Regions from separate parts of the Homo sapiens genome. Here region 1 is linked to region 2. Evidence: fine-mapped expression QTL. Tissue or cell type: caudate. Region 2 holds a variant in brackets; the other region holds the start of a gene. All regions are shown on one strand. Distances are between the middles of the regions.

Region 1 (5,369 bases), 26 kb after region 2:
TTATTGTTGTTGCTTATTTGTTTATTTTATTTTGTTCTTTTGAGTCGGGGTCTCGCTCTGTCACCCAGGCCGGAGTGCAATGGCATCATCGTAGCTCACTGCAGCCTCAACCTCCTGGGCTCAAGCGATCCTCCCACCTTAGCCTCCCGAGTAGCTAGGACTACAGGCATGTGCCACCACACCTGGCTACTTTCTAAAATGTTTAATTTTTTGTAGAGATGGGGGTCCCACTATTTTGCCCAGGCTGGTCTTGAACTCCTGGGCTCAAGTGATCCTCCCACCTCCACTTCCCAAAGTGCTGGGATATTAGGTGTGAGCCACCATGCCCAGCCAAGATCTGTTTTTAGTGTATCTGGATCTCTGACCCCAGCCTGAAGAGCAAGGAGGGGAACTACTGGGTCCTTGAACAGGAGTTGAAGGGCCCAGGTGGGATAAGCTGATGAAGAACCAGAGATGCGGTTGCTAGGAACTCCCTCACTGTCTGGCCCACACTGTCAGCAATCCCTATGCCAACACACAAGCCTCCATGCCTGGAACCAGCCCAAGCCCCAGACCTCTTGCACCACGCTCTGAGGACAATGGGTCCCAGAGAACAGCAAGTTAGCTCCTGACTCCATCTGCAGCTCCAGGCAACATGAACCAGCTGTTCATGGGTCCCAGGAAAATGCAAGCTAGTGGTTCAGTGGTGCTTCCAGCAATACCCTCACTACCCCCAAAGGTGATAAGTTGTGAGCAACCGGTAGACTGGAACCCACCTGACTCATTCAAGACATTTGGCTCCAGTCTCCTTCCCTTGCTTACAGTGGGGAGACCCTTTCCAAATGGCATTTATACGTCTCAGATAAGGTTGTTTGTCGTGGGAGGTAAGGGTAGGGGTGGACGTGGGGAGTTCCCAGAGTCATGGGGAGGGAAGAACTTTCCAATGCATCCCCCATCTTTCAACCCAGGCACCACCTCTACCCCTGTTCCATTTTGGGGGACATGAACAAAGGTTCCCAGGTCCTTAAACCTTGGAGGAGGCGAGTAATAAAACAGGTCAGCGACTCCAGGCCAAGCCAAAGCTGTGGGCTAGCCTGTAACCCTTGCTTCACATGGTGACCACTTCCTACCCTCCAGTCCAGCACCCTCCAGCCTGGCTCCGTGGAACTCTTAACTCTCATCAGATGTCTAGGCAGAGGCGGAGGCAGCTGGTGAGTCCAGGGCACTGTCAGAAATGTAGTCCAGGTATCTCCTGGACCAAGCGCCCTCCTAAAAGAGGGACAGCATTTCTTGGCCGGGCGTGGTGGCTCATGCCTATAATCCCACCACTTTGGGAAGCCAAGGGAGGCGGATCATCTGAGGTCAGGAGTTGGAGACCAGCCTGACCAACATGGAGAAACCCTCTCTCTACTAAAAAAAAAAAAAAAAAAAAAAAATACAAAAGTAGCCGGGCGTGCTGGCGCATTCCTGTAATCCCAGCTACTCAGGAGGCTGAGGCAGGAGAATCGCTTCAACCCGGGAGGCCGAGATTGTGGTGAGCCGAGATCACGCTATTGCACTCCAGCCTGGGCAACAAGAGTGAAACGCTGTCAAAAAAAAAAAAAAAAAAAAAGAGGAATAACATTTCTCTCTTCATGTCTATCCCCACATCCTTGGGGACATTCTTTAAATCTCATAAATATGAATGATCTCTTTGGGGAGGGGGTGATCAGAGTCATAGCTGGGCATGATCGGAGTCAGAGCTGGGAATGCCGGCAGCCCACCCACCCGCACCCCACTCCCACCACACCCCACACACCTGAAATATCGATGCCCTTGAGGCCGATGGCTTCTTGACACTGGGGGAGGGAGGAGAGGGAGGGAAGGGAGAGCCCAGTCGCCGGAGAGGCGGAGACAAAGAAGGCAGCTGCACAAAGCGCCCAAAGATGAGAGCGAAAAGGACGGGAATGGAGGCAGAGAGCAGACAAAAGCGGACAGGAGATGCGGCCGCAGGGGACAGGCAGGGAAGCCGGAGGAGGCTTCGACACCGAATCACAGACATGACACCTCGTGACTCTGGGCCCAGCAGATGAAAAAAAAAAAATCCTAGCACGCACCCCCTCCCCTGGGACACTGTAAATAGAAAGCAGCGTGACACACCCCCTTCGCCCCGGGGTATGGGGGGCGGGGATCCGTGGAGGGGAAGGGGTCAAGGGGAAAAGAAAGTCAGAAAAAAGGCCGTAAGAGAACAACCTTGGAAACAGAGACGGGGAGAGGCGATGAAGTGGGGGCGGGAGAGAAGGCCTAGGGGGTGGGCAGAGGCAGGGGCCGAGGAAGATGGCCCAGCCAAAGGGGGTGGGGGGAGGGCCCCAGAGGGCCACAGTAGTGGAGAAGGGGGGGCTGTCCTGCAGGGTCTTCCCGAGTGAGGGTCTTCCCTCTGCCTCTACCCCGGATTGGGGGCTTGGGCTTGGGGGAGAGGGAGATTGCAAAGGGAGCGATCTGCTTGGCGGGGGTTCCCCTGGGCGCCGGACCCTGGGGACAGGTGGGAGCGACATGGCAACAGAGGGGGGCGGGGGAGCGCTTCTGGACACCTGAAGCGCAGCCTCTGACTCAGTTTTCTGGGTCTTCGGACTGGGAGGGGCTGGGCAGAAGGGGGCGCAGCCGCTTGGTCCCCCTGAGGGGCGGTGGCCTTCTGCTGCCCCATTCTGCGGTGGAGGAGCACGCTAGCCCCCTCCCCAGTCCCCAGGCCCGGCCGCCCCCCTACCTCGCCGGAGCCGGAGCTGGAGCCAGGGCCGAGATGCCGCAAAGCCAAGCGGGGCGGGCGGCGGGCGCAGACACCCCCGGTGCCAAGAGAGAGGTCCCTTTGGAGCCCCCAAGAGTCAAAGGAGGATGACGCGCGGGGACTCGGCCGCGCTGTCGGAGCCCGACTCTAACGTCGGTCAGCGCTGGGGCAGCGCCGCAGCTCCGTTGGCGACGCGGGCCGGGGCGCCCATCGGTTCAGGGGTTCGGGTGGCACGCGTGGCTCCCCCGGCGACGCTCCGGCGGCAGCTTCGAGGGGCGGAGACCCCGGCGACGCGGAAGAAACCCGGGACGGATCCGGAGCGGACTCGTGCCCTGCTGGCGGGGCCGGGGGTCGGGGTGCGCCCTGGGCAGCTGGGTGGCCTCAAGCCCTACTGGCGAGACTCCGCCCTGTGTCCCGGCTGGGGAGTGGGACTGAGGATGGTGGTGTCTCGGGTTTTGGTGGTGGTGATGCTGGTGTTGCTGGCTTAGTTATCTCCCCACCCCACGCCCAGCACCTCCGTTCTCTGTCCGGGGGTCCCCCACTGCCCTGAAGTACCCCTCCTCCAGGAGCCACCCCTCAATGGAATCTCCTCTCTCCATTATAAGAGCGGCTGGGAAGGGGACTCCGAGCCTTCGTCCCCGGAAACTGATAGAGGGAATCAGAAACCCTAGAACACCGGGAAGGCGAAGAGACATCAAGAGACAGAAGTTGAAAGGCTGAAAAGGGCAGAGGGAGGCCAAGATCTCTCCATCTTCTCACCACTGCGTGGGTGCCTGAGCACCCTGGTTCCCCGGGTGCACAAGGCCCCTAAATCCACAATGTACCCCACGGGACAGCAGGCAGAAAGACCTCCAGGTACACAGCGCACACCCAGGCACATTCACACAGACCTCTGCACTCAGGAGGCGCTGCACCCCACGCTGATCCTGGTGGCTGGGGAGGAAGAGGGAAGTGTGGAGCTGGGACCCGGGTGGGTGCAGCGCTGCCCCTGCTCTAATAAGGCGGTGGCCCAGGCTCTTAACTCCTACAAGGTTCTCCATCCCACCTATAAAGTGAGCTCAAGACTGGGTGCGGTGGCTCAAGCCTGTGATCCCAGCACTTTGGGAGGCCGAGGCGGGGGAATCACTTGAGGTCAGGAGTTCGAGACCAGCCTGGCCAACATGGTGAAACCCCGTCTCTACTAAAAATACAACAATTAGCCTGGCCTGGCCGGGCACGGTGGCTCATGCCTGTAATCCCAGCACTCTGGGAGGCCGAGGTGGGAGGATCACCTGAGGTCAGGAGTTCAAGACCAGCATGGCCAACATGGCGAAACCCCGTTTCTACTAAAAATACAAAAATCAGCCGGGCACAGTGGCCTGCACCTGTAATCTCAGCTACTTGGGAGGCTGAGGCAGGAGAATCGCTTGAACCCGGGAGGCAGAGATTGCAATGCGCCGAGATCGTGCCACTGCACTCCAGCCTGCGCGGCAGAGCGAGAATCCAACTCAAAATAAAATAAAATAATAAATAAAGTGAGATCAGAACACCTTCAGTTCTACCCTGTAAGGAGCCAGGAAAGTGATGGACAAAGCCCTTTAGCAACTGTAAACTGCTTTGGAGATGCAGGGAATAATTTTTTTTTTTTTTTTTTGAGAGGAGTCTCACTCTCGCCTAGGCTGGAGTGCAGTGGCGCGATCTCGGCTCACTGCAAGCTCTGCCTCCCGGGTTCATGCCATTCTCCTGCCTCAGCCTCCCCAGTAACTGGGACTACAGACGCCCGCCACCACCCCCGGCTAATTTTTTGTATTTTTAGTAGAGACGGGGTTTCACCGTGTTAGCCAGGATGGTCTCGATCTCCTGACCTCGTGATCCGCCCGCCTCGGCCTCCCAAAGTGCTGGGATTACAGGCGTGGGCCACCGTGCCCGGCCGATGCAGGGAATAATGTTAAGGCCTTTCAAGGTCTGCTGGAGTCCTCTCTCCAGGGGCCGCCCAGCTCTCATGCTCCCCCTACCCTCTCCCCCACCCCAAAATTCATTGTTCACCCATCTTATTCCATTTTTTCTTTCTTTACTTTCCGAGGTGATAACTTCATAATCAGGCAAACTGATCCCATTGGATGTGCCAATGCAATAAGAAGGAAGGTCATGTTCCTGGAATCCCACATACAGGAATTCCAACCGAGGGTTAAAGGGCTAAACAGGAATAACACCAAGGGTTAAAGGGATGAGAATCCCGACTTCTAGGCTGAGGCAGGGCAAAATGCAACTGACAAGTTACTCAACATTTTTTAATAGGACTTCCCCCCATTTCTGATCTCTGAAAGTGCTAACACACTGTGCGTCTCACCAAACTGCAGATTGCAGTTAAGGTGCCATATGCTTCATGATGGGAAAGAACTTCAAAAAGTTACAGGTTTCAAGGAAAAAATCACTAGTGGCCAAAGGGAGAGACCATCATATGCTAATCCCGCCCCTTTCGCCAGAAGCCACACCTTCCACCAACAGAAACTCTTGGATTGGCCCAACCCTCACACACTTCCAGTTCCATCAGCCATTCAGAATTAAAAGTTTACCAACGTTTCGGCCCCTCCCCTTAAGTCCAAGCCACTCAGAAGCAAGTTGTCACTGTAAGTCCCGCCTCCAAACA
Region 2 (5,369 bases):
CCCAGCTACTTGGGAGGCTGAGGAAGGAGAATTGCTTGATCCGGGGAGGTGGAGGCTGCAGTGAGCCGAGATCGTGCCACTGCACTCCAGCGTGGGCAACAAGAACGAGACTCCGTCTCAACAACAACAACAACAACAAAAAAAAAAAAAAAAAAGGAAGAGTCTGGGAAGAGGAAATGATAGGTACCATTATGAAGTGTTTACAGATACTTGCTATACATTACCTCTAATCCTCAGAACCACCTTGCAAGATATGTACTACTGTCCTCTTTTTTTTTTTTTTTTTTTGAGACAGAAGGCTGAGTCAGGAGGCTGAATCAGGAGAATCACTTGAACCCGGGAGGTGGAGGTTGCAGTGAGCCGAGATTGTGCCACTGCACTCCAGCCTGGGCAACAGAGCAAGACTCCATCTCAAAAAAATAAATACACAAAATAAATAAATAAAGTGGAGACAGGAGGTGAGGCCTTACCAACAATTGCATCATGTGCTACTCAAAAATAATAGCACATTAGTTGCCAACAATTATCTACCATTAACTTTTCTGCATGACAAAATTTAAGATTTTCTCTTATCCTTCTATCCAGACCTCTTTACTTTATCATTTGTGCTAGGGAAGCAGGAGCCTCAGAGAGCCAGCATAAAGCCATTTTAAGTTCAGCTCCATCTTGAAACTAACAAGGCACATTCCTTGTCAGTCACAACCCAAAGCTGTTTACAGTTGGGGAAACAGCTTAAAGATACCTGCAAGGACAGACTCCTCCAACTACAGAAAATCCAGATGCCCCAATACCCATAACAATATGTGCCTTTAAGATAATTATAGTTCTGGCTGGGTGTGGAGGCTAAGGCAGGATTGCTTTAGGCCAGGAGTTCGAGATCAGCCTGGCCAACATTGCAAAACCCCCTCTCTACTAAAGATACAAAAATTAGCTGGGTGTCGTAGCACATGCCTACAATCCCAGTAGTGAGACCCCATCTCTACAACAAAATATTTTTTTAATTAATTGGATGCACTGGTTCATGCCTGCAGTCACAGCTACTTGGGAGGCTGAGGTGAAAGGATGTAGCTGTAATCCAGCTATTAGGGATGCTGAGACACAAGAATGGCTTGAACCCAGGAGGTGGAGGTTGCAGTGAGCTGAGATCACGCCACTGCACTACAGCCTGGGCAACAGATCAAGACTCTGTCTCAAGAAAAAAAAAAAAGGAAGAAAGATAATTAAGTTTTGCTTTGATGTACTTACCTACTAGAATGTCAAGGATAGTTAAATTAACAGAATAATAAATTTTGTCATGCCATTGGCCCATCTGCACATTGACTCGGCTTAGTTTAGTCTCTACAAAAACAAGACCCCTATATAAGAAAAACTTAAAGGTCAGGGGCGGTGGCTCATACCTGTAATCCCAACACTTTGGGAGGCTGAGGAGTGTGGATACCTTGAGTCCAGGAGTCCCAGACCAGCTTGGGTAGCATGACAATACCCTGTGTCTACAAAACATACAACTATTAGCTGGCTGTGGTGGTGCATGCCTGTAGTCCTAGCTACTTGGGAGACTGAAGTGGGAGGATCGCTTGAGCTCAGGAGGTGGAGGCTGCAGTGAACTATGATCATGCTACTACACTCCAGCCTGGGCAACAGAGTAAGACCCTGTCTCAAAAAAAGAAGAAAAAAAAAAAGAAAGAAAGAAAAGAAAAACTTAAGACAGTGTGTTCCTCTGTTTGCTTTCTGAGGACGCCCTACTCCGTAAGGGTGTAGCTTTCAATAAACTCTCTCTTCTCATCGCACTCTACGACTTGCTTTGGGTTCCTTCCTGCATGAGATCCAAGAATTCTCTCTTGGGGTCTGGATCGGGACCCCTTTTTCCAGTAACATGTAGACACACACACACATTCAGTTTAAAAGCCCATATTACAACGTACATCCACCTCATCTTCACACTGAGATTTGGGTGACATCTGTCCCTTTTTGAGTTTTGACCCAAGTTAACCTTTTAAGACGCTCTTTATTTCTTCCCCTTTTGCCTCAGTTCACGTTCCTCCCCCTTCTCCTTACATG[C/G]CTTTTATAGCAGCCTCTCCTTTTCTCTTTTATTCTTTTTCTACACATTTCTCTTACTGTAAAATCAGAAGCCAGGCGCGGTGGCTCACGCCTGTAATCCCAGCAGTTTGGGAAACCGAGGCGGGAGGGTCTCTTGAACCCAAGAGTTCGAGACCAGCCTGGGCAACATAGTAAGACCCCCGTCTCTACTAAAAAAAAATTAAAAATTAGCTGGGCATGACGGTGTGCGTCTGTAGTCCCAGCTACTCAGGAGGCTGAGGCGGGAGGATCGCTTGAGGCCAGGAGTTCAAGGCTGCAGAGAGTCACGATCCCACCACTGCACTCCAACCTGGGTGACGCGGCCAGACCCTGTCTCTAAAAAGAAAAAAACTAGAGGGGTGTATCTATCACGCTTTCAATAGATATTCAGCTTGGGTTCTATACTTTTCTCATGACCCTTTGTCTTTCTGTTTTCCAGGTCACTCCTCCTCCCCTACACTTAATTCCCACCCTGCTCCCTTTTCACGGCCCACTCCCCTTCCAGGAGTCCTGCCTGCTGCTTCGAACTCCAATGATCGTCCCATTCACCTCTCACCCCTTTTCCCGCCTTTTTGCCCCACAAGGCTCCAAAGCGCGAGGACCTTATTGTCCTCCTCCCCCATCCTCCAACCAGCCCACAGGACAGCCGCGTTACCATGACGACCGGGCTCCTAGAAGCTGCAGTCAAGGACCTGGTTGCCATGGTTTCCGCTTCTCCGCCTCCAGCCCCGCCCGCGCTCCCCGCGGCGTCGGCGCCTGCGCAGTGCGTGGCGCGCCGGGAGTCAGAGCCTGGGCGGGACGGGGCGGGGCTTCGGGCGAGAGGGAGGGCAGCAGGAGAAAGGATAAGAAAGGGAGTGGGACTGGCGCCTACGGTGGCCGAAGTGGGACGCGCCGAGCCGGAGGCTGCAGGATGGTAGGCTGTGCGAAGAGGGAGGGGAGGGGGAAGCGAGGGGCGTGGGCTGCACCTGCGGGGGTCCTCGGGGGCCGCCCTCGGGGTGAACCGCCCTGTCTTCCCTCTGGTCCTCAGAGGCCTCCCTTGCCTCGGCGGGTGGGCGAGCCGGGCTCGGGAGGAAGAGGGGGAGGTGGCATTCGGGAGAGGGGCGGGGAGGGGGCGCATTTGCAGGGCGAGCGGGGGCTGACGAAGGGGCGGCGGGGCCGTCCCGAGCCGGGAGGGGCGCTCTGGTCTTGGCCCCTGGGGTCCCTCGATCCCCGCTGCAGGGAAGCCGCCCGAAGCAGAGGGTTGCGGGAGTCTCTTTGCTGAGGGAGGGAGCGGGGGTCACCAGTCACCGAGACCCCCTTCCCGGGCTGCACAGGCGGGAGCGGGGACCCGGGTGGGGAGAGGGGTGTGGGAGGGGAGTTTCCGGGTCGGAAAAGGGAGCGCCCTACTGCGTTCGTGGCCGTGCTTGCCTAGAGGCTGGGCCCAGGTAGGGAAGCGAAGTGGACTCGTGGTTTTTCTCCGAGGGACCCAGGCTTTGGGATCCCGGGCTCCGGGGCTCTCTGCCCCCCTTCCCATTCTCTTTCCGGAATCCAGGCCTTCCGTCTTCCTGCTTGCTCCCCACCCCCCTATTTGAGCGCCGCACGAGGCTCCCCAGCGCCCCTCTTTTCCCCTCCACCAAAAAAATCAGTTCTCCTGAATTCTGATTTTTCACTTACTAAGCTAGTACAGTGCCACACACCCAGGGATTCCAAGCCTGGGCATGTCCATGAATAGAAGAGCTACTGGGGTAAGGAGAAGACTCCAGGATGTGGCCCAGACCCCCCGGAACTGGGAAGCTGGGGTACACTGGGCAGTGAGGGTTCTGTCTTCCATCCCACTTGACCCAGCTTGCTGTCTGTTCTGCAGACATTCTTTTAGGGGAACCCCCTGGGTGGCGGGGCCCTAACTGAGGGAAATTGGTCACCTGGTGTCTGGGGAGGAGTGGGCGCTTAGCAGGAGGCACCCTAAAAGGAAGAAAAGTTAAAGAGAAATGTCGAAGACCAAATGCCTGGGTGCCTGCAGAGAGGAAGATAGGATTTGGGCATCTGCATACCCTGTGTGGTGTTGGAGATACATACTACAGAGGAGGATACCCCTGGGCATAGGCCTGGCACTGGAGGATGATATGTTTGGGAGATCATTAAGATCTTATGGCTATGATGGGGTGGAAAATTGAGGTAGCTTCTCCAGGGACAAAATACCAGATTTCAGCATGGTGATGGATAGAGAGAGGGTGGAAGAGAACAGGCATTTCTTTGGCGTCGGTTACTGTCGTCTTGTCACTGTGCTAGGCATTTTACTTACCTTTAGAAAGCAGACCAGAAAGCAAGAGGTCAGGGAATCATGGTAATAATAGTAATAACTAACGGCCGGGCGCAGTGGCTCATGCCTTAATGCCAGCACTTTGGGAGGCCTAGGTGGGTGGATCACCTGAGGTCGGGAGTTCGAGACCAGGGCCTGGCCAACATGGTGAAACCACATCTCTACTAAAAATACAAATATTAGCCGGGCGTGATGGCACGTGACTGTAATCCCAGCTACTCAGGAGGCTGAGGCAGGAGAATCGCTGGAACTTGGGAGGCGGAGATTGCACTGAACAGTGATTGCGCCACTGCACTCCAGCCTGGGCGACAGAGAGAGACTCTGTCTCAAAAATAATAATAATAATAGCTAACATGTTATACTGCCTGCCTGTGCTAGGGACTTGCATATATCAAATCATTTAGTCTCACCTAACAACTGTGCAAGGCAGGTACAATGTCCATTTTACACATAAGGAAACTGAGGCCCAGAGACTTACAGTAGTAATTGGGCCAAGGCCTTGCATAACTAGTAGAGCCAGGATTTGAACCCAGCTGACAGACTCAGAAGCTCTGACTTCCCCCTGCTGGTGGAAACACCCAGCCTTGAGAGCAAGGGGCTGGATGTTGGAAGAAAGTAGAGAAGAATTAGCTGGAGATAAGTTTGGGGAATGTGTGGTTACCCTCGGTTCTGCCCTCCCATCCCCCACAGATGCGGTTCATGCTATTATTCAGCCGGCAGGGAAAACTGCGGCTGCAAAAATGGTACCTGGCCACTTCGGACAAGGAACGGAAGAAGATGGTGCGCGAGCTCATGCAGGTTGTCCTGGCTCGAAAGCCCAAGATGTGCAGCTTCCTGGAGTGGAGGGACCTCAAAGTTGTCTATAAGAGGTGACTCCCCACCTACTTTCAGACCTGCCTAGATTCAAGTTGGGCAGTGGGTTAAAATGTCTGAGAAATGGTCGTCCTGTAGGTCAGGGAGACCTGGGAGCTGAGGACATCTGGAGGACAGTAAT

Direction of the effects. Positions count from the first base shown, and alleles are read on the strand shown. Sizes are in standard deviations (SD) of each study's normalised expression.
With allele G in place of C in region 2, the expression in caudate of the gene that starts at base 2,974 in region 1 is lower (moderate effect, 0.44 SD a copy in GTEx).

What was found. PIP is the estimated chance that this variant, and not a neighbour inherited with it, causes the effect.
Region 1: it holds the start of NAT16, and the variant in region 2 is the best candidate, but not a certain one, in a credible set for the expression of NAT16 in caudate (GTEx, PIP 0.53).

The regions. Positions count from the first base shown.
Region 1 is chr7:101,177,320-101,182,688 of GRCh38, forward strand. It overlaps NAT16 (N-acetyltransferase 16 (putative)), which reads right to left and starts at 2,974. Exons shown (of 4, transcript NM_198571.3): 1 at 2,723-2,974. RefSeq lists an enhancer at 2,755-3,477 and silencers at 2,849-3,143, 5,211-5,369.
Region 2 is chr7:101,151,529-101,156,897 of GRCh38, forward strand. It overlaps AP1S1 (adaptor related protein complex 1 subunit sigma 1), which reads left to right and starts at 2,948. Exons shown (of 5, transcript NM_001283.5): 1 at 2,948-2,989; 2 at 5,066-5,244. The coding sequence starts at 2,987. RefSeq lists a silencer at 2,690-2,929 and enhancers at 2,740-3,034, 3,354-3,854, 4,833-5,369. The variant C/G (reference allele first, on the strand shown) is at 2,059.